3 linked regions of the Homo sapiens genome follow. Changing the gene in region 3 together with the main gene of any one other region gives a genetic interaction. Each region holds a gene or a part of one and is shown on either strand. Other genes may lie near its edges.

Region 1 (8,970 bases), on a different chromosome or scaffold from region 3:
TGGTGGTAGACACCTGTAATCCCAGCTACTTAGGAAGGCTGAGGCAGGAGAATTGCTTGAACCTGGGAGAATCGCTTGAACCCGGGAGGTGGAGGTGGTGGTGAGCCAAAATCGCACCATTGCACTCCAGCCTGGGCAACAAGGGTGAAACTCTGTCTCAAAAAAAAAAAAAAAAAAGAGAATAAAGTAGTAACCCAGTAAAACTATTAAATTTTACAGAAGAGAAAAAATGATCAATAAACAAAAGAAAAAACGCTCAACTACACAGTAATCAAGGGTGTGCCAGACTGATATCTGCAAGATGGTGGACTAAGAGGCTCCAGCCTTTCCTTCCTTCCACGGATATACCAAAGAAATATCAACACACAGATCGGTTCTTTCTGAGAGAAAACCATGGACTAATTGAAAGACTACTACACATCAAGCAACTGAGAAAATATTCATGTGAAAACAGGTGGGAAGAGCTGAGACACACTCCCCGCACAATCCCTATCCCAGACATAACACCTTACAATTAATTGGTAAGGAAGTCCCAACTCCTAGCTTCTCCCTGAGGAGTGAAGGGTTTGGACCACACATATAGTACCCTGACCTTTATGCTTCCCACCCAGGGGTTTGGCTCCTAAATCACCCAGCTCAGGGTTGATAGAGCTGGGCATCTGCAGGTCTCCCTAAACCACAGACACCAAAGAGATGGTGGGACACAGATTTGCAAGCACTTTTGGCAGCTCTCTCCCTGGGCTCAGGCCAGAGCAGGCAGGTAAATGCCCACCTCCCGGTTTCTACCTGCAAGGGGTTTATCTACCCATTTTCCCATCTGCTGCCTGAGGGTTGACTTCTGGGTCTGTATCTGGGAGCCAAAGGGGCAGGGTGAACAGTAGACCTGTGGGAGCCTGAACAGAGGTATAGGTAGGCACTGCACCTGCTCCTCTCGACTAGCTCCAGCAAGAAATCCAGGTCTCCAGCTTCTCCCTTGAAGGAGAATACTTCAAGCACAGTTTTATAGCTGCCACCTGGGGGACTGGCTCCTAAATCACTTATCTCTAGAAGTTAATGTGAGGCAGGAGAATTGCAGAGGAAATTGGAAGTTGGATAAAGGATAGAGTGAATAAAAGCAGAAACAGAAGCAAGGTGAAGGGGTGGGTGAGCAAGAAGCAAGATAAAAGGCAGAAGTGAAGCAGCCAAAAGAAAAAGTGAGATAAAGAAGAGAGCAAGGACCCCATGGCCAGCAAGATCCAGATCAAACCAGGAAGGGGCAGCTCTTCAGAGATAGGCATGCGCATTAAAGAGAAAAAGTATCCTTAACAGGATGCTGTATGATAATCAGCTCATTAAAGCTCATGCATATGGACTACCTATCACGCATGTAGTTAAAATTATGGGATGGAGACAATTCACAAGCCCGCACAGGCTAAAGTAACTAAGCAACACACCTATCTATCAAAAGGCAGGCACCGGCAAAAGATCAGGCAGCCTTGCGAAGAGAAGGGGAAAAAACACATAAAAAGACCCAAGGTACACCGAAGCCATGCTAATCTCATTTGGCAGAAGTCAGCCCACTCTCCCCTCTCCGGGAATGTAATACTGCGCTTCACACACTTTTGCTGCTTGCTTTGCTGTCTGAGTATCACATCCAGTTCTTTGTTCAGGACACCAAAAGCCTGGAATTGCACAGCACCATCGGGTTATAAATGGGTCTCTGCATTTTGTGTCTTCTAAGGCCACAGAGAACAAATGGGTAGTTTTAAAGGGGCACAAGAGGACTTCCAGAGGGTATTCTTCCAGGTTTAGCACAAAGAGAACAGGCAGTAACTCCCAGCTCTCAGTATCTCCCCAGAAGGCATTTGCCTGCACACTCTCTCAGCTGCTGCTAGAGAACAGGGCTTCGAACTGGCCTGCAGGTAGGAGATGATGGGGCTGATGGAGAATGGGTTTGACCACACACCTGACACCTCAACTACATTTCACAGTACTTAGAATAGAATGGACTCCATTGCACAGTACCTAGAATAGAAGTAGGTATTCAAAAAATAGTTTTTAAATAAAAGAACAAATTATTTTAATTCTTTCTAATAAAAGTTTATGATATCCACATTTACTAGCACAAATTGTGTGATTTTGAAAATTCTGTTCATGTCAAGCTAAGTCATCTTCTGTAAGATCACAGGTAGCATTTTTGTCATTTATCTTGCCACAATAAAATATTTGAACTGTCTGGCACAAGTGGCAATATCTCCGCTCCCTGCTGCTCAGACACTTCCGCAAAAAACCTGCACCTGATTGGACAACGTGGCCCCGGAGAACAGGTAAGTGGCAGAGCTTTGTTTCTATATCAGCAACATCAGTTTTAATGTAAACAGCAGGCGTCTTTCTTTTTAGAGCAGTAGCCTACTTGTGTTTCCATATAATTACAGTATTCTTGGCAGAAGCCTTCACTTCTCCTGCAGTCAACAACTTTTAAATCTGATGCAGGTTCTGCATTAAAAAAAGAAAAAATCCAACATTAGCTTCTTAAGACCATCTCCAGAATCAAACAGTGGTCATTTGAGCCGTGAGGGACAGGGTGGGGGTGGCATGGATATGAAACAGCTTTCCATAGTTAATAGCTTCAAGTTCCAAACTAAAACATCAACTCCAGATATATAGCTCTGCCCCACTAAATCTCCTTTAACCAAAGGAAGGAATAATCCTGTCTCACAGGAATACTGTTAGACTAAATAACACACGCCTACTATTGCACCTGTTTATATTTGTTGTGTAATAATTGAGTTTTCTTTTTCCCTTCCCTTGGGAGGAGATCCAGATGAATGAGTCCTTTGGAACTGTGGGCCAATTAGAAAGGGATGGGAGGTTGGGTAGGATGCTGCAGGCATCAAATTCAGCAGGACTTTATTTGCTGGATGTCACAGCAATTTGCCAACACCCTCCTGTCTTTCTTGCTCTTGCCCACTGATCTGCTAACCTAGTTCTCCCTGTCTTAGGGTCAGCAATCAGCTTGGCATTAAAGAAGCATCTTGGAAACTACAGGCTCTTCCAGGCCCTTTTGGATTTGAAGCTGGTCCTGCCCAGGGGTTTGGGGGCTGACCAGAAGCCTGGCCCTTCTGGAAGAGTCCAGAAGAGTGGCTGTGGGCTCAATTGTCCCTTGCCATGTCCTGCTACCTCCTTGCCTGAGTAGACTGACAATACAGTCTATTCTCTGCCCCCATTCTCAGGAAGCATTTCCCAGACCTCAATGGACACCTGAAACTTAGTAGGTAGGTATTCAGTAAATTCCTTGAACGGGAACGACCTCCAAAGCTAAGGGCATGGGGCTGCAACCTGGCAGGAGGCCATGTTTCCACCAGTGTCTCCTCTGGCACCTGTTCTTGGAGGAAGCCAGCAATTACAGGTGTGGCTTCAGATAAATTGCCTTTTGGCCCCTCAATACTCCCACGTTCCACAAGGCCCTCAATGATCCAGCCCCAGGGGAAGCTGTGAGACCCCGTGGTCTCCCTGACAGGCAGGGCAGCCCAATGCACCCGCACCATGTCTTCCCCAAACAATGACTGCTCACCCACCCCGACCAGCACAGACATCTTCCCGTCTATTTGTTCCCTCTACGTCTCCCCAGTGGATGCACTTGTTGCACGTGTTGGTCCCTGACTCACCTTGGTAAGGTGGGGTGCGCGGTGGTAAGAGGTCCCGTTTCACTGCGTGGCGTAGCAGCTGAAACCCGTTTGTGCCTTGCCCAGGGGCTCTTTCCCTGAGTTCTCCGAGAGCCTCAGTGGCTGAGTGGTTCACATGTCTGGCTTGAGACGATCCTGTGCAAGTGGAAACACACGTCTGAGGATGCTCTGAGGCCTCCGCCTGGCAGACCCGTCAGCATGAGGCACCTACACTCTACCAGGTGAGTGAGCATGGGTGATTGGGTGGGGGAGTTGGGAGGGGTGCTAGTGTTCCGTGTGTGTGCACGTTTGTGCACATGCGTTGTATGCACCTATGTGTAGAGAGAGAAGGTGAATGAAGTGTAAGAAATGTATGCCATGAATGGTGAGTCTGAGCACCTCCTCAAAGCCAGCACAGCCAGAGAATTTATTTCAAGTGTCACTAATGCAGTTGTTAAGATTCCCTAAAATGTAATGTTCTTCTCTGTAAGGGAAAGGGGAATGTTAAAAGGATAAGAAAATGGAGTCGGGGAGGGACACTCTTCCCTGGGAAGCAAGTGCCATCAGCCAATTCAGAGTGCCATTTATGAACCCAGTTCAGAGACTCGTACCCAAAGCTCCACCAGGAATACATGCCCCAAGGACTTCATCTCTCCCTGTCCAGCCTGGACTCCCATACCTCAGATGACCATTGCAGAGAGATTCTGGCACCCAGACCCGGGTCACCTTTCCATTTTACCTGGAAACAGCAGGGCCACAAGGAGAAGGCTGGTGACGGACGGGAGCAATCGTTGCCTCATGTCTGCCAAGAGCACTGCAAGCCAGAAAGCACCCAGGGTGGGTGGGCAGGCAGCGGGGCTCCTTTGATGGAGTGAGGCTGGGTGTGTGGGCCCGGAGCGTGGGAAGAGCTGTGCTCCAGGATGACTTCTCATTCTCAAAGGACAATGTGGACACGCTACTATCCCACTGCTGGTGGAACAAACACTTGAGACACATATTTCAGGAAGTAAATAATACGCCTGAATGCCTTGGGTGGGTTTGGTGAATAAGGAAGAACAGAGAGAAACAGAAAGATGAAAGGCATGGAGGGGCAGAACAAACATAACTATCATAAAGTTGCCAATGTCCTCAAACGCTTCTCAAAAGCCCCCTAATGTTCATGAGAACAGGGACATAAATAAACTGCCATGTCGATTCTATCCTGTTGGCTGAGCGTTTTTATTTTAGTGTTAAAAAATCATGCATAAGACACACAACATAACAGGTAGGACCTGGTTTTACAAACTATCCCTTCCTGAAGTTATACAGAGAGTTCCAAGGCTGCTCAAAATGTTCTTTTCTTTTTCTTCTCCTCTCTGAGTCTCTCTCCCTGTTTCTTGGTCCCCTCCACTTCTCCTTCCTCACTTTGGACCCCCCTCCTTTCTATTTTAACTTATTTGAGTTGTCTTGATTTTTCTCTCCCCTTTCCATTCTCTTTACCCCCAGACACCTCCTGTTGATGTCACTGGGTCCAATTCAATTCTTTTAAAAAAGAAAAAAAAAATCTGTGTTTGAGTCTGGGTTTTCTCCTCTAGTAATATCCAAGCAGAGGACTTGTCTTCCCTTCTCCTTCATCTTTTTAAGCATTTTAACCAAGTGTGTGTTTCTTACTTGGCTGCATTAGCTCAGGTATGCATGTAACCCAGACAGTCTGCTCTGGACTTAACTAAAGTGAAGAAGGCTTTGGTTGAAGAGTTTTGTATTCACATAGCATCCAATGTAACATCAGTGATGTCTGGAAAAGATAGTGCTTATCTCATATGTCTCATTTGCATGTATATTTTAATCCAGACAGAGAAAACAACTTAGGTCATTTGTGTAAATAAAAATACTTACTCTCTACCTGGAGAAAGCTGGAAGCAAATGGAGAAAGAGGCAGCAATGACAATAGAGACCTGGGCATCCGCTGAAGCACCAGCAAAGGGCGGAAGGTTTGCAGCTGCGGACAGTTGCACATAGCAGCTGCCCTGGCAGCACAATGCGGAGGCCACTATCTTTTGGGTCTCAGGACAGATTCTCCACTGCAAAGCATGAGGTGCTGGTCAGGGAGAGCAGGAGCATCATTCACATCCTTTCACTTTAAGGAATTAGGAAGTCTTCCAATTCCAAGAGCACAGGGCAACACTGCGGAGATAGGTGACAACTGGCCCATGATAAGTTTCTTTAATCACTTACTGCATCAAATTCTGATAATTGGATGTTGGAAGAACATAGACAGTCAAGAAAGGAGGTAGACAGCTGCTCTACCTCAACCCTAAATGAAGATTTATTCGCTCATCTACATACTCTGGGTATTTTTTGTACTCTAGTTCAATAGCAACTTCTTACAGTTGTATTTGTAATTATTTAAACTTGGAATGTGGATCTTTTATAACAGTGATGGAAATTTTGGAGTATATTGGTAACTTATTTCTATATATTTTTATCTTCTCTATAAAAGGAAAGAAAACAAAAACAAGCCTATTCCACCATTCAGATATTAATAGTAATGAATCATTAATCAAAATCATGACTTAAAATATAACAGCATTTGAGTAATTACCACCCAGGTAACGGAATCTTCTTTGAAGTCGTTAGAATTATTTGAAATTATTTAAATGAAGAAACTGAGCCAAAAATAGTTAGATCTCACTTCCTTTGTCTACGTCTTGAGATAAAGTAAGCCCCCTCTTCCATGCTTCTGAAAAGAACAATCTTAAAAAAGAGCAGCCGGGAAAGCCTAGTTCTGCTCTTTGACAGGCAAAAGCTGGTGAAGTCGTAATAAAGGCAATTAATGTTACATCTGTCCTAACACAACAATGCTCTCAGCTCCTGTCCTCTTCTGCCAGATTTCTGTGTCCTAAAAAAATCTTTGAATAATTCTCTTGCTAAAAGCCACATCCATCCTGAGGGGGAGGATGGCAGAACCCATTATAGAATATTCTAATAATTGTTTCAAGTTTTTTTTGGTCCATTCAATCAATAAATCATATTCTTTTTTTTTTAAGCTGCTTAGTATGTGGTATCTTGATTCGTTTGGACTAAGTAGGTGGGCTAAAGTAAAATGATCAAGATTTTATTGTCAAATAAGAAGTTCTGCAAATACATATTCCTGAAGGATCTTATTGGAAATTGCACACATGTGCAGGGGGTAAGATTTTCCACATCGGCACATCCTCCTTCTTGCTTCCCAAGTAGCATCCTGGTAAATCCTGGAAAATATGAATGCGAGAAGGAAAACCCTATTGTAGCCCAGTTTGGAATCAGAAGTTCTCTGCAGAATCAAATTTAGACTCTTCTTTTGCATTACTAAATGACCCAGTGAAAGTTTCTCTGGAGGAGACTCACAGAAGAGCGAAGCAAAGATTCCTATGCAGATTTTCTTATTCTTAAGTCTGAGATTGTAACATGCTAACCAGTCTGTAAGACCAACTAGAATGCCATTTAACAGAGGCACAGATTCCCCTCTAGGGAAAATAACTGATATATGGAAAAGACACAAATATTAGAGTCTTCTTTGGAAAAAGCAGTCAGGAAGAATTACATGATAGGAGAGAAAACTGCTTTTGGATCGTGGTTAAAGAAGTAGCTTTGAGAATTGTGCAAAAATATTCTTTGGTATTTTGTTTCTTTTTCATGCACAGAATCACAAAATGAATTGTGTTTTCAGAAGTCGATTTGATCTGTAGCCATTTCAGCCATCCCAAGAATGCTCTTAAGGCAGCATATGAAAGAACACAGGAAATCCTTTCATGAGCGCTAAGGCATAAACACCATTTAGTTTTGGCAATAAAAACATGGTATTGTTATAAGTTTAAATAAATCTGTTGAGATTGCCTATTCTTTTTCTTGAGACGGAGTCTGGCATAGTTGCCCAAGCTGGAGTGCAGCGGCGCCATCTCAGCTCACTGCAACCTCCGCCTCCCGGGTTCAAGCGACTCTCCTGCCTCAGCCTCCTGAGTAGCTGGGATTACAGGTGCCTGCCACCGCGCCCAGCTAATTTTTGTATTTTTAGTAGAGATCGGGTTTTCACCATGTTGGCCAGGCTGGTCTTGAACTCCTGACCTCAAGTGATCCTCCCGCCTCTGCCTCCCAAAGTGCTGGGATTACAGGCGTGAGCCACCCTGCCTGGCCGAGGTTGGCAATTCTGACGAAACAATCATAACATTTTGGAACTGAAAACTGTCTTAGAGACCTAACCAATATTTTAAGAAGAGGAAATGGAGGATGAGTGAAAAAGCGATGTGTCTATATGTGTTAATTAAAGACTAAAGATCTGGAGGAGGCTATGCACTGCAGACACTATTAACAGAATGGAGTCCATGTAAATAAACAAAGGGGTGCTCAAAGTTAAAGGGAAAGGCAACAGATTTGTTTGGGGAAGAGCAGGAGTTCATGGTGGTCACAGACATAAGAAGAAATGTAGTTTTTCACGGGAATAGTATCTTTTCTCCACGGTGCCATGATGCTTTTATTATTTTGGGTGTAATTTCTCATAACTGGAAAGCATTTCAGCCCCTTCCCAGTCCTCAGAGGTTGACCATTTTTTTCTCTCGGATTCAGCCACAAAGGCAGCTCTACCACTCACCATGTGTCTGTCTTTGACTTTGTCATGTTGGGAAGACTCAGGACCCCACCTATTTTTACCCACAGGGCCCTCTGTGCCTATGAAACTGAGGTCCCAGCAGTCCTTGTGGACATATCACAATCTAAAATTCAGGGATAAGAAAATCTACATAGGAATCTCTGCTTCACTCACCTGTGAGACTCTTCCAGGCTAATTTTCTTTGGGTCATGTGGTAATGCAAGAGAAAGTTGATTCTATAGCAACTTCTGAGCACAGACTTGGCTGCAATATGTTTCCCCTTTACACAGTCATATTTTCCAGGATTTAATGGGATGTCTCTTGGGAGGCAAGAAAGAGAATATGCCAGTGTGGAAAACCTTAACTCCTGCACGTTGAAAATTTCAAGTTCTGCTCTTTTGGATATTTAAATAAGGACCTGGGTGGTGATTTGCTCACCCAGAGATTTTCTCTGTCAATCTCTGTCTCTCTCTCTCAACTTCAAATAATAAAAAACGCATAAATTAAAAAGTGAAAAATATCCAAACAATCCTTCCTTCTGTTGATTTTCATTAGGCACATTTCAAAGGGTTACTGATCATTCATTATGAACTACAGACTTCAGATCTGTATCCATCCTTTGGAGATAGAAGATAAGTAGCAATGTTATTGGGTTTCTGATTGTGTTTGTAGTGCATCAGGTACAAATTATTAAATATTTCCTGCCAATTCTGGAAACAATAA
Region 2 (8,950 bases), on a different chromosome or scaffold from region 3:
GAGAAGTATATTATCCCATAAGTTGGGGATTTATCTGTTTAGGGAACTGTCATAAAGAAATACCATGTATTGAGACTCCCATATCTAAAAAGTTCAAGAAGGAATATACTAAAATTATAAAATTATGAAAGCTCAATTTCATTGCCAGCCTGGGCAATGTAGTGAGACTTCATCTCTACTAAAAATCAAAATAATCAGCCAGCATGGTGGTGTGTGCTTGCAGTCCCAGCTATTCAGGAAGCTGAGGTGAGAAGATTGTGTAAGCCTGGGAGATGGAGGCTGTAGTGAGCTATGATCATGCCACTGCACTCCAGTCTGGACAACAGAGGGAGACCCGGTCTTAAAAAAACAAAACAAAACAAAAATCTGAGCATGGAAGTATTTCATATAGCATGTAATAAATTTATAGAATTTAATATATGAAGATGGTGGTAAAAATGCAGGGTTTTTTTTAACAAAGTATTATGGACAATATTTTGAATGTCAAAGACAGACATAACTATTAATAAAGTTGGAATACATCTAATCTTTAAAATGCACATCAGGCTGGCCAACATGACATTCCACAACCATGGAATCCTTGAACAGAATAGCGTATAAGTGTGACCATTAATTCTACATCCCAAAGATCAAGGCTGAAGACTTAAACATTTATCCAATAATTCAGTGTAAACCAACGCTCCCCTCCCCAGCCCTTGACTCAGGGTGTTGCACTGTCCATCAGGCTGGAGTGCAGCAGCATGATTATGGCTCACTGCAGCCTCAAACTCTTGGGTTCAAGTGATCCTCCCATCTCAGCCTCCCGAGTCACTGCCTGTTCTTTTTATATCCTAAAAGCAGAACTGTTGACCTTAATGAGTGATTACACCTTGGAAACTGCACTTGGCTTAACAGCCTGCTTCATTCACTTTGCTTGGGGTTGATTTTGCCTTACAGAAAACAATTAAAGTTTCCCTTCATTATTCTGAGATTTAAAAGAGAACCAAGCATTATATGAAAATACAGAAAGGCCTATACCTAGTAATAAATGAAAAACTGAACTCAAGATGACATATGCATACTGACACCAAGCACAATGGTATACTTCATATCAAATGACACAGTGACACAGGACAGTGGTTTGCAATAAATTTATTTAATCAGAACTTCAGAGGGTTCTAGAAACCTGCATTTTTAACAAGGACTGCAGATGATTCTAGGTTTTGATTAAAAGTGTGGTTTGGGGAAGCAACTTTACCCTTTATTGTGTGTTAAATTACATATACAATAAAACAAAAAGTCACGTAATGGAACAAAAAATTGCTTTATACAAAATATTAGTAGATACCCAAATATAATATGGTCTTAAAAATAAAATCATATGTATATAGTTGTATTCCTAAGTACAGTAGTGCCCCCCTCATCCAAAGTTTCCCTTTCTGTGGTTTTGGTTACCTGTAGTCAACCACATTCTAAAATAGGTGAGTACTGTACAAGAAGATATTTTGAAAGCAAGAGAGACCAACCACATTCACATAACTTTTATTATAGTATGTTATCATTGTTCTATTACATTATTATTAATCTCTTGCTATGCTTAATTTATACATTATACTTTATCATAGGTATATATATATGGAAAAAACAGTGTATAAAGGTTTGGTACTGTTTGAGGTTTCAGGAGTTCACTGGGGGCCTTGGAATGTATCTCCCGAAGATAAGGGGGAACTACTGTAAGCAAAATCGAAAGCTATACAACAATCAGAAATGGGAAGAGAGCAAATCCAAGTATAAGTGAAGACATTCCTCTGAATTCCCAGCATTCATCGAGCATCAAAAACGACCACTGTATTAATTTGAGTTAAGGACAAAAACGGTACTTAAACATTATTAAGACTGAAGGTTTCAAAGTCACTTTCTCTTTGCAATAAGCTGGTTTGTTATTTAACTTAAAATGCAAAAAAGAATGGAATTCACTATTTACTATGACAACTGGTTTTTAAATAAACTAAAAACACTTTCAATTTTTATTACCACCTTTTCCATAAAATGTATCAAAAAACACTAAAGCAGGCCAGGCGCAGTGGCTCACGCCTGTAATCCCAGTACTTTGGGAGGCTGAGGTGGGCGGATCACGAGGTCAGGAGATCGAGACCATCCTGGCTAACATGGTGAAACCCCATCTTTACTAAAAAATAAAAAAAATTAGCCGGGCATGGTGGCGGGTGCCTGTAGTCCCAGCTACTCAGGAGGCTGAGGCAGGAGAATGCCATGAACCCGGAAGGCAGAGCTTGCAATGTGAGCCGAGATTGCGTCACTGCACACCAGCCTGGGTGACAGAGCGAGACTCCGTCTCAAAAAAAAACAAAAAACAAACAAAAAAAAACACTAAAGTAATGTTAAAGCGGATAATCCGTCGATTTACAATGTGTGTTAGTTGTATCATAACAATTTACTCTGTATTTTATTTTTCCACATGGGGGTCACACTATGTTGCCCAGGCTGGTCTTGAACTCCTGCAGCCTCCCAAAGTGCTGGGATTATAGGTGTGAGCAACCATGCTGGGCCTACTCTCAGTATTTGAACAATTTGTATGCCCAACTTTTTCCATTAGGTAGTATACACAATATTTGTATTTCTCCTCGTGAACTTTAGCTTGTCCATAAACTGAAGCTCAAGAATGAATACTTATATAAATGTAGTCATGCACCCATAATGACGTTTTGGTCAAAGATGGAGCACATATAAACAGTGGTCGCATAAGATTATACTCTATTTTTGCTGTACCTTTTCTATGTTCAGATATACAAAAACATTGTGTTACAATTGTCTATTCAGTACAATAGCATGCTGTACAGGTGTGTAGCCTAGCAGCAATAAGCTATACCATATAGCCTAGATGTGTATGTATAGTAGGATATACGGTCTAGGTTTCTGTAGGAATGATGAAATTGCTTAAGGACACAATTCTCAGAATGTATCCCTATCCTCAAGCTTGACTGCACAGAATCCCTAAAAAATAAATTTATGAGAACCAAAATCAACTAGCATTATTTAGATTATTTAGAGCCTATGCATTGGTCCATGAAAATGCTAATCATGTTTGTTTTTTAAGTACTGTAATCCAGAAAGTTATCATTTTAACCAGAAATTAATCTTTATCAACCCCAGCATTATTCATTTCCTCCTAACTCATATTTAGAAAGCATCGTTAAAAGGATACATCTTTTAGTCCTTTTCTTGTACATTATTCTGTATCCACATTCTCTGCATCTGATTGGATCCCTAGATTTTATTTCATTTTCTGTGTGACACTCTAGAATTAAAAAAAAAAATTTACTCAATGCCTAAGAGGAAAATATTACAGACAAATTATCTTAAATGTATTATTTACCTAAGGCAATCCAAAACACTAAAATATACTCAATCTCAAGGGTCTGCTGCTTTTATTAAATATATTAAATAGGAAAGAAAAAGGTTGTAGGCCATGCATATTTCCAGGAGAGAGAATGAAATCTCAACGAGCTTTGTTTTTTTCTGTTAGTAAACAGAAGACCAAGGACGAACCCAGGTCTACTGACCTCAACGATTTTTTTTATGGTTGCTAAAGTGTTCTACTTTATAACTCTGAAGACCAGTAACTCATTTAAGCAAAGAATAAATGTAACAATTTCAAAAAAACTTAAATAAAATATTCTTACTTTAGGTAAGTGCTACTCTTACCTCCACAGATATATATCATTGGTTGCTGCTTTGGAGGTTGAACGTCCTTCTGGGTGTCCATTGTTAGCCCCTGAAATCACAGACTCAAATACTGAATATCTCAAAAGGGCTTCTCACAAGTCCATCCGGGCCCATTTTTCTCAGGAAAAGCTACAAAGATCCAATTCCTAATCTGTTCCTTTCCCCAAATCCTATGGGTTAGGTCTCAAGGACGAAACGCATACACACAAGTATTGAGCGTTTACCCCAAACTGGACATAATAACTACTTCATACGTGTTAGGCCATTATAATCTTCATAACAATCCTAGGAGACATCACTCTTGTTTTACAGAGGACGCAACCGATACTTAGACATGTTAATTTCCGCAGGATCACTCAGCTACTAAAAGTCAAAGGGATACAGATCTGACTGTAAAGCTCGCGTTCTCGTTTAACACAAGTTCTATTTTCCCAAACTCTAGCAGAAGTTAGCCAAAAAAAATTATATCCCTCAACAGGGGAACAGGCTCACCGAGGGAAGAACAATGAAATAACTCCTACTGGCTAAACATCTAAACTAAAAGAAAATAGGGAAAAGAGCGATAGCATGGACCGTATCCCCAGCCACTCTCAACTCTACCCCCATACCGGACCTTTTTACCCCAAGTGTCTTTCCAGTTTTGGCCCAAATATCCACCACAAACCCCAACCCGCCAATTCGCTTACCTACACAGCACGGAAAAACTCACTCCGCGTTTCCAAATACAACCCGGCTAGTCCAGGTGTCGAGACCAACTTCCGGCGCTGGTACATGACGCACAGTGCTGTCTCTCTTTCTCTCTCTCTTACTCCCCGCCCCTTCCGCCCCAGGCGTGGCCAGACAACCCGGATGGCGCAAAGGCGGTAAAGCAGGGGCTTTCTGTCTATTAGATTCTACGGGTTTAAGTGCCTGGTCCCCAGCTATTTTAATTTTGCAGGAAAGCAGAGCATTTTAACAGTTATGCAAGTACAAGGCGGTGTGTGTTTCTGACTAATGTAGTGGTACAAAGTAACACTTTTCCAGAAGGGTAGAGGGTTAGAAGAAAAACCGAGATGACAGTGTCCGAGAAGTACTAGGATAGCCGTTACTCGGACGAACATAGAAGAATCGACTACACCAATGATTTTCACGTAGAAAAACACTTTTCCAGATTGTTTTTAAAAATTGTTTGATATCTGTACTGGGGCAGTGGGGCAGCTGCCTCCTACCTTTCTCTTGATTTTGTTTTTGCTTTCTGGCCCCTTCTCTGATAGGCTACTGTCACATCCCTCGCCCAATCCGTTTACTTGTTTTAAAGCAAAGGTTAGTGTGACGGTAGCTACATGAACAACTCCCTCTTAAATCTAAGAGATTTTGGTAGCTTTCGCTGTCTACTCACCCGCCCTCCGTTCTATGTATTCCACCATAGAAGAACAAAACGCCCTGCTCAGTGGAGGTGCGTTCTTTCAAGTATCAGAATTTCAGTATGATGGATCAGTTGGGTTCAGAACGTTTACATTTGTTTCCTTTTTTTCCAGAAGATATTTTACTTAGTAGGGTGAAGAAAATGAAGCTATTTTAAAAAATTTAAAAATAACTTAATTGTTAATAACTATTTTAAAGTTAGTGAAAGAAGTAGGCGTTCTTTCTCCCAACACGCACTATGTCTGATATTTTATTAAGCAGGTTATACTCCTTTCGGGCCCTCCATCCAGAAATCTGAGAACTTTGAGCTTCACCTTTCACTTCCAGAAGTTCAAACTCCTTCTGTTGCATCTCCCCAGACCAGCTTGAGAGATTTAAGTTGATCTTTCCAGGAAGATGCCATTTAAAAACCCTTCAGGAAAACGCAGCAGTTCCTGGCTTCTTTCTTCACAGACAGGCTAACAGAGCATAAATATTTTAACCATTAGCCCTGTTACAAAGTACCTCTCCTCTTAACCAAAGAGGTGATCTAATACAAGAGGCACAATAGGCTTCCCTGTAAGAACTATTAGATGGAACCATTGTTATCCTAAGCGAAAGATGACAGAGTGATCCCAAAAGTCAAACTTTCATATTTACAAGCTCTCTTGTATATTAACTCTCCAGTTGAAATATCAAGATAATTCTCGTGCAGAACAATTTATGGAGATCAGAATGGATCAACATATGTAGAATACAAATGGGTCCTGGGGCCCTACAAAAGGGCAAAGTAATGACAAGTCATAGCAAGAAGATCCAGAATTTCAACAAGAATTCATGTTGGTGCTAGTTCCCAATCCAACACGCTCTTTCCTATCAACAGAGACTGGTAGTTCTAGGATCACTTGGGAGTTTGGTCAGTGTAAGCTACACTATTATCAATGATAGCATTAACTTTTTCTGAGCATGTACTACATGCCAGACATCATTGCATTGCTCTGTTTTAATGGGGGTAGTTGTCTTGCCATCCTGGAAAACAATGCTTTTAACTCTTTATTAAGAAGGTTATGGAGATGCAAGTTGCTATTTTTTCCCTGAATCTCTGTCTTTCCTTTTTCCTTGATTATATTCACTTAAATATATCCAGATAGCTTGAATATCATGGTAATTTGGGAAATCTCCCATTACGTTTTATTGGATGGTCCCAAAAAGAAGCATCAGATTTTGTGGCAAGCAGGTGGGTTTTAGAGTTCTGAAATTAGTGATGGGATGACACCCAATGCAAGAAAGGAAAGCAAAGGGCTGGGCACCGTGGCTCACGCCTGTAATCCCAGCATTTTGGGAGGCTGAGGCGGGCAGATTGCTTGAGGTCAGGAGTTCAAGACCATCCTGGCTAACATGATGAAACCCCGTCTCTACTAAAAATACAAAAAATTAGCCAGACATGGTGGCATGCACCTGTAATCTCAGCTACTTGGAAGGCTGAGGTGCAAGAATCGCTTGAACCCGGGAGGCGAAGGTTGCAGTGAGCTGAAATTGCCCCACTTCACTTCAGCTTGGGTGACAAAGTGAGACTCTGTCTCAAAAAAAAGGGAAGCAAAAAGGCAAAAGACTGTAAAGAATATGAAATTACAGCTCAGTGGCTTCAATCTGGAGTATGTAAGTAAAGCTCAGGCAAACTACATATAACTAGGTGTCTTTTTGCCCGTTTTTAGGTGGGGAGAGGTGACAATGATTCTTCCTTGAACAATATAAAGGAGATATGATATAGTCTTTCACTCCTCAGACATAATAAAATATCTCAAGAAAAATAAATTAACTGGAGAAAAAAGAAAAGGGCAATGTTTAAATGGTTTTGGGGTTATGTGGATTCTACTTAACCATTGGCAAAATTCCCTGCCCTGTTTACATTGGGATGGAGATGGGGAGCAGACATTAAACAAAAATGAGTAGATAATATGGGATTTTAGAAGGTAGTAAACTACACAGAGAAAATTCAGTAGAATTCTGCAGGAGAATTGCAAATGTGGGGCAGGAAAGGGTAAAATGGCTGTAATAGAGATTTGTTTGAAGAGCTAGAGAGGGTACTATTCACTCTACCAGGGAGTGTGGGGGTAGGCTTCAGAGAGGTGCTGTCTTGAAGAATGTGTAATTCATTAATTCTTTACAGTCCTACAGGTACCTCAAACTTAACAACCTCACACTAAATGCATCTTATTTTCTCCCAAGCCTATACTCTTCATTCCCTCACTCCTTGCCCCATGCAGTTGATTCTGCCAACTGAACATGTCACATCTTGGTTCTGCTCCACCCCCCACTGCCTTCTGGAGAAATGCAGTAGCTTCCTACTGGTCTCCTAGCAGCCACCCTTGCCTCTCTTCATTCTGTCCTCCATTCTGCCACCAGAGTGGACTTTCTAAAATGCTCTTCAAACTCTGAAGGTGCAACCAGAACTTCCCAAGACTTAGCTTCTTCACTTCTCAGGAATTTTCTCTAATCCTTTCCTCTAACAACTCTTAGTTTCTGCCTATAACAAATTATTTGCAGCTTCTCCATGTGCCCAACTGCTCTTGCACATTTTGTTTTGAGTTTGAAATTTTCCTGCCCTTATACATTTTAAGTTTGGAATTTCCTGCTGTCTGCCTTTTAAATTGCCACTTGTACATCAAAATCTATCTCATGCACTCTGTTCTCCAGTAGAGTTAGCTGGTTCTTCTTTCCTTTGTGCTGCTACTGTTCCTCTGTTACAGCACTTGCTCTATACCAATGAGCTCCTTAACAGCAGTAACTGTGGCTGTGTCAGCTCTGTATTCCCAGTACCTAGCACAGTAATTGGCACATAGTTGGAATTTAATAACTGTTAGTGGACGGGCACAGTGGCTCATGCCTGTAATCTCAGCACTTTGGGAGGCTGAGGCAGGTGGATCACCTGAGGTCAGGAGTTCGAGACCAGCCTGGCCAACCTGGCAAAACTCCGTCTCTACTGAAAATACAAAAATTAGCTAGGCGTGGTGGCGGGTGCCTGTCATCCCAGCTACTCGGGAGGCTGAGGCAGGAGAATCGTTTGAACCTGGGAGGTGGAGGTTGCAGTGAGCCAAGATTGCACCACGGCACTCCAGCGTGCGTGACAGAGCGAGACCCTGTCTCATAATAATTTTAGTGAGTTTGGTTTTGGATGACTGAGGGACATCCAGTTGGAGAAATGTCCAGTCAGAGAAGAGTGGTGGTAGTGCCTGTTATTGGCTTAAAAGTGATGGTTGAAGTTCTGAATAAGAATTACATAAGCATGGGATGATAAACTAATAAAAATGCTGAGGTAGGACCTCTCATTTAGGGAGTAGGCCAAGGAAAAGAAGCCAGAAAAAGGAGACTAGGAAGAAGCTGCCAAGAGCAGCAGGAGTGTCCCTGGCATATAATAGACGCCCAGTAAATATTTATTGAATGAAAAAATTAGGGTTTAAAAAATTTATTTGGCTTTGAGGGTACTTGGGAGTTCATGATGCCCAAAAATGGATGTTTGTAAACAATGAACACATTTCACTCTGGTTTTTATGAATAGATTTTTTAAAAATCTTTTTTTTGAGATGGGGGTCTCACTATGTTGCCCAGGCTGGTCTCAAATTCCTTGGCTCAAGTGATCCTCCCACCTCTGTGCTGGGATTACAGATGTGAGCCACCAGGCCCGGCTCAGCTTTTTTATCACAAAATCTGTATATATTCATTGTTGAAACATGAGAAGAAAACACAGATAAAAAGAACTAAAAAGCAAACATAATCCTGTACAAATTTACCGTATCCAAGTTATTCATACCTTTCAGACCTCATCCTGTGTATATCCATATTT
Region 3 (5,140 bases):
TAAAATGATGTTTAATGAACACCTAAACACAGTCATCCCTCCATTATTTGTGGGTTCTGCATCCACAGATCTAACCAAACGAGAATCAAAAATATTTGAAAAGGGTGGCTATGTCTGTATCGAACATGTACAGACTTTTTCCCTTGTCATGATTCCCTAAACAATACAGTATAATAACTATTTACATAGCATTTACATTGTCTTAGGTATTATAAGTAATCTAGGTATGATTTAAAGCATACGGGAGGGCTTGTATATGTTACATGCAAATACTATGCCATTTTATATCAGTGACTTGAGCATCCATGAATTTTGATATCCATGGGGGTGAGGTTGGGGAGATCCTAAAACCAATCCCGCCCAAATACTGAAGGATGACTGTATATACAAAACCACTGTTAGGTGCTCAATATCAGTCTGTCTCACAAGGTTTCTGTAAAACTCAAATGAGAATCTAGATGGCTCCACGTAAAAGAATGGACTGCTGTGTGTGTGTGTGCACACGTGTGTATGTGTATGCTATTTTTATTACATAATCTGAGTAACAAATACATTCAATTCTCTAATATAGAAAGTTATCTGGGTCTATTTACTTAAAATTTTTAATAGAAGCTACCATTTACTGAGCTCTAAATGCCATCGGTATGCAATGTGCTTTACGTTTCACCTAATCTTTATAATAACCTTAGGAGATGGGTATCCTCTACATCTTAAATGAGGAAACACGAGGTCAAGAAACATGATAAAGGTCCCAGTAACTAGACCATACTAGAACTGAGATGAATTCAGGGCTATTTGTCTGCAAAGCCTGTGAACTCATTCTATTCTCTAAAGTTCTAAAAATGGATGTTTCTCTTCAATTATATTCTAGTTAAGCCTCATTTATATGCTCTTATGAAAAATCAAGCAGTTTCAAGAACTATCAAATAGAATTACAACTTTTTCTTGACAATTCACAGTCATCAATGTGAACAGTAGTCACGGTTTGGGCAGTAACGTGGTTTACTCTAAAGACCCTGCACTTCACGGCCTAGTAGGATTTTTGCCTTGCATTCAACCAGGTAGTTTTTTGTTTTTTTCCTTTACCCTGTCACTTTTCCTTGCTATTTTTGTGTCTGTAATTTGCTGTGGACTAATAAACCAAATAACCAAATGTACAGGAATGGTATCTAAAGCAATGGTTCTGAAACTTTAGTATCCACAACTCACCTGGTGAGCTAGTTTAAATGCAGGTTCTTGGGTCACACTCCCAGGTGTTCTGATTTAGTAGCTTTGGGAGAATGAGGCCCAGGATTTGCCCTATGAGTAAAGAACACATACTTTATGACTATGAGAAAAAGGGGAGTCCATTTTCAGTAGCTTTTATATTTTCATCTACGGCCTGGTTAGTTGAGATTACTGGATGTGTGTATATATATATGTGTGTGTATATATATATATATATATATATATCTCCTGCTATTTGAGATACTAAATATATTTAGAACTAGTTTCAAAAACAACTTTATTTTTTCCCCTTACATCATAAAATTTAGATTTTATAAAATTTAGATTTGTTGAACAAAACGGCTACAGAACAGTCAGAAAGTACCAGAAAAATGGCTTATTTCCCTCTCAAACCTTGCTTTAGTCTGTCAAACTTTCTTAAAGAGCAGCATGTATTTAGTCTTTGGAAATATGGGTTTGAGTTCTGGCATTCCGCTAGTTCTATGATTTGACAAATTGCCTAACCAGTCTCAGCTGCAGATTTTTGCTCGTCTTTAAGATGGGAGATAATAGTGCCTACTTCTCAGGGATAGTGGGAGCTTAAGAGAGAATGAACAGAAAGTATCGAGGGTAAGCACTTAATATGTGGTCAAAATTTCAAAATGAATTTGTTATTTATAAGGCTTCTAGTTGTAATTATCACAAAAGTTTTGTGGATTCTTTGAGGGAACCAGATTTCATATTTATACACCCCAATGCAATCTACAGAGATGAGCACAGTGGAGTGTCCTCCTTCATAGTCTAGGAGAGAAATAAAATTTGCAGTTGCAGCACATTATCCTTACTTTCGCGGTATAAAACAGGCTTGAAGTATTGATTTCTATGTCACACAGCAGGATGCAAAGAAACCAAGATTTTGCTTATTTAAATATTATAGACAAATCCTAAATACTTATAATGAAGGATTATTACTTCAGTGGAAGAAACAGGCATACTAACATGAAAAAACACATTTTATTGCACTTAAGTTATAAGAAAATAAAATTTCTAAGTGAATCAAACCATAGACACAATCCCTTTAAAGGTTGTTTTCCTCCATCATGTCAGGTTGTTACATAACTAAAATTAACCAACTTGAATCTGATTGTTTTAAATCAGACTATAAATAAAACAAACAAAAAAATAAACAGAAGGAGGAAAAAAGATCGCCTAGGATACAGTGTTAAACCACTTTCACAGTTCAGCTTGAGTTGTGGCTCTTGGAGAATGAGGCAAACCATTTGACTGTTTCATTCATTTTGTTTGTTTGCATGTGACGCCTTTACTACAAAAACTGAATAGTTTCTGCTTTGTCAGTTACTCAGAGCAATAAAACTGTAACAGTTGTTTTCCCAAATACTGTAAAACACTAAGACTGACCAGCAACTTTATTTTAATTTTGTGTTTTATATATTTTTAAAATATTTTGTCAGTTTTACGATGTACGTTCATCCATTCACCACAGCCCTCAAAAAGAAAAGTTTCTCCACAGAACAGGCAAGTAATAGCTCTGTTCCAAGGAATGTGTTTTAATTTTTGCCCAGATAAAAGAAAATAAGCTTTGCACACACTCTCAATTCTTTACTTGCAGGCAAACTTCACTCTTTATTATCTGAAACTCTTCCATTCTCAGCCTCTTAGAGGCACAGATGGCTCAAGTTTCAGTGGCAAAAAGTCTTTTTTCCATAACCAAACTAGAGCAAATTTGGAATTCAGTCTGGGACTAAAACGTCACAGCAGAAAAAAAATAAAAAAAAATAATTTGCTTTTTTCTTTCTTTCATTTAGCAGCATAAATAAGTTTGGCCACTGGGAGTACAGTACAGGGTTGGGACAACAATCCCATATTTGAAGACCTACTTCTAGCACCAGCATCAAGAATTAAATCCATCTCAGGACTCACAGAACCCAGGACAACTTGCCACCTTTGAGCAACATATGCATTGAAGAATGTATATGGAAGCAACAGTAAATAGATTAACAGAGGCTAATACTGTGATTGATTGACATTGGCAATGGTTGGCAAAAAAAAAAAAAAAAAAGCTTTTCATGATAACTGTACAAAAACAATTCACAGTAATTTTTTTAAGCTTTTCCACTCCAGAAAAATGACTTTTTGTTGCAGATGCTCTCTAATTAGAAAGTCAACCAGTACTTGTTTTGATATTATTGCAGTTCCTTTCTAGGTGTCTAGCTGTCAGTGGTAAAAGAACAGGCTAGCAGAATCTGTAATGATGTTTCAGCATTAACACTGCCCAATGACCACTGGAGAAGAAAATAAAGAAATAATTGCACCTGGTTTGATTTAGAAAGTCTCATTTTGCAAAGCTGCCCTCAGTCAAAAGTGAAGCCTTTTATGTGATGAGACAGCAGACGCCTCTCTTGTCAGTTATGGTTTGTCATCTCTTCTTCTTTTCCTTCTTAGTCTGTAGGTCTTTTCAATCTGTTGCCCCAAGCCAACATCCTGCACCACTGAGAACAAGGGATTTTTTTCTTTTTCTTTTCTTTTTTTCTTTTTGCAGGGGGAAGGGCAGGGAGTATATCGTCTACACAATTGGACAAATTCATCTTTTCTGCTCTTCACTTCATGTCCACATCAAAGTCCAGCACCAGCAGCTTGGTTTCTTCAGTCCCATTCCGACTCCCAACTGCACACACCAGCTTTGTGTTTGAGGCTCTGATCCGCCACACAACTCCCCCACTCCCCCCACTCTCCAATGTGACTAGGTTTCGAATAAATTCACCCGTTTTCAAGTCCCATAGTTTTACAGTTCCATCATCTGAGCTGGTAATTACAAAGTTCTTGTTGAACTGTAAACAGGTCACAGCACTCTGATGCTTGTTGGGACCTAGACAAAAACCAAAAGAATTTAATTACTGGTTAGAAATAATGGCTATGAGTTAGTTACATTATAATTTGTAGACTTCTACTTTAGAACATACAATAAATGCAACATTTGAAATGATACATATTTAGAAACCCATGTCCTCAGTATTTTAGGATCAGCATGGATGTAAGAAAATCTGGTAGTGATTTGTAACTGAAACATTAACTTTCAAGAGGTCTGTCTTCCAAGAAGCTTGGTTAGCTACCAGACAAACATCTTATTTTCTGGCTGTGTGAACGACAGCATTCCTTGGTGAGGATGTAGATAGTGCAACTTCATACCTTCTGCTGATGGACAAATGAGCACTAAGAGATCTATTACCCCACCACCATGAACCACTCAAAGCTGAACAGTCACTATTCCAAAACTCTGAGGAGAGACAAAACCAATGAGTAAAAAGCTGCAATGTTGCCTATCAGATGGCCCCACTGAAAAAAACACTTTCTAAGGGCTATAACAAATAGAAAAAGTTAATCATGAGGCACTGCTGTACCTCATCTAATATTAGTGATTTTCACTTGTTTCTTTCTCTACTTTAGTAGGCACTATTATTCCTCTCCATTCCAGTTAAGCACGTGACTAAGTGGAGGCCAAATAAATTTTCTATCAAGGATGCTGTTGTTTTTTTCAATAAGGTAGCCCTTTAAAATTGGACTACAAATTCAAAATGCAATGGTCAATCAAAAAATATAATGAGTACGTTGCTTCTATGATATAGCCAAGATCTTTCTTCTCACTGTTCTTAAAGGTTAAGTAGAGTCAATTGAACATGCAGGAAGTGATTAAACAATTTTATATTACATATTAAAAACACAGTTTAAAACATTTCCTCAAGAGTAGACTAGTTCTGTAAGTCAGGGTGAAAATATTCATAAACTTTTCTGAAGTAACCATTCTGTATGAGGTTGACTCTTTTTGTGATGCTAAGGCTCCATATTTCTCTTGAATAATGATCTCATTTTTAATGAACAAAACGAAAGGTGAGTAAGACTTACCTTGCAATGTTTG

Evidence for each region. Genes that interact genetically often act in the same process or in processes that back each other up.
Region 1: changes in FBXW7 (region 3) and SPAG11B are lethal when combined (synthetic lethality), as found in Homo sapiens cells (one study listed by BioGRID).
Region 2: changes in FBXW7 (region 3) and POLR2K are lethal when combined (synthetic lethality), as found in Homo sapiens cells (one study listed by BioGRID).

The regions. Positions count from the first base shown.
Region 1 is NC_000008.11:7,459,060-7,468,029, forward strand, and holds the start of SPAG11B (sperm-associated antigen 11B isoform D preproprotein), read right to left. Parts: upstream 4,484-8,970; 5' UTR 4,445-4,483; coding exon 4,384-4,444; intron 3,801-4,383; coding exon 3,648-3,800; intron 2,476-3,647; coding exon of another isoform or gene 2,348-2,475; exon of another isoform or gene 2,206-2,347; intron 1-2,205. UniProt on the Homo sapiens protein: Has antimicrobial activity against E.coli. Plays a role in the defense response in the male reproductive tract, contributing to sperm maturation, storage and protection.
Region 2 is NC_000008.11:100,146,169-100,155,118, reverse strand, and holds POLR2K (DNA-directed RNA polymerases I, II, and III subunit RPABC4), read right to left. Parts: upstream 4,484-8,950; 5' UTR 4,410-4,483; intron 3,773-4,409; 5' UTR 3,764-3,772; coding exon 3,703-3,763; intron 3,296-3,702; coding exon 3,203-3,295; intron 1,826-3,202; coding exon 1,803-1,825; 3' UTR 1,116-1,802; downstream 1-1,115. UniProt on the Homo sapiens protein: DNA-dependent RNA polymerase catalyzes the transcription of DNA into RNA using the four ribonucleoside triphosphates as substrates.
Region 3 is NC_000004.12:152,319,057-152,324,196, forward strand, and holds the end of FBXW7 (F-box/WD repeat-containing protein 7), read right to left. Parts: coding exon 5,128-5,140; intron 4,094-5,127; coding exon 3,825-4,093; 3' UTR 1,488-3,824; downstream 1-1,487. UniProt on the Homo sapiens protein: Substrate recognition component of a SCF (SKP1-CUL1-F-box protein) E3 ubiquitin-protein ligase complex which mediates the ubiquitination and subsequent proteasomal degradation of target proteins.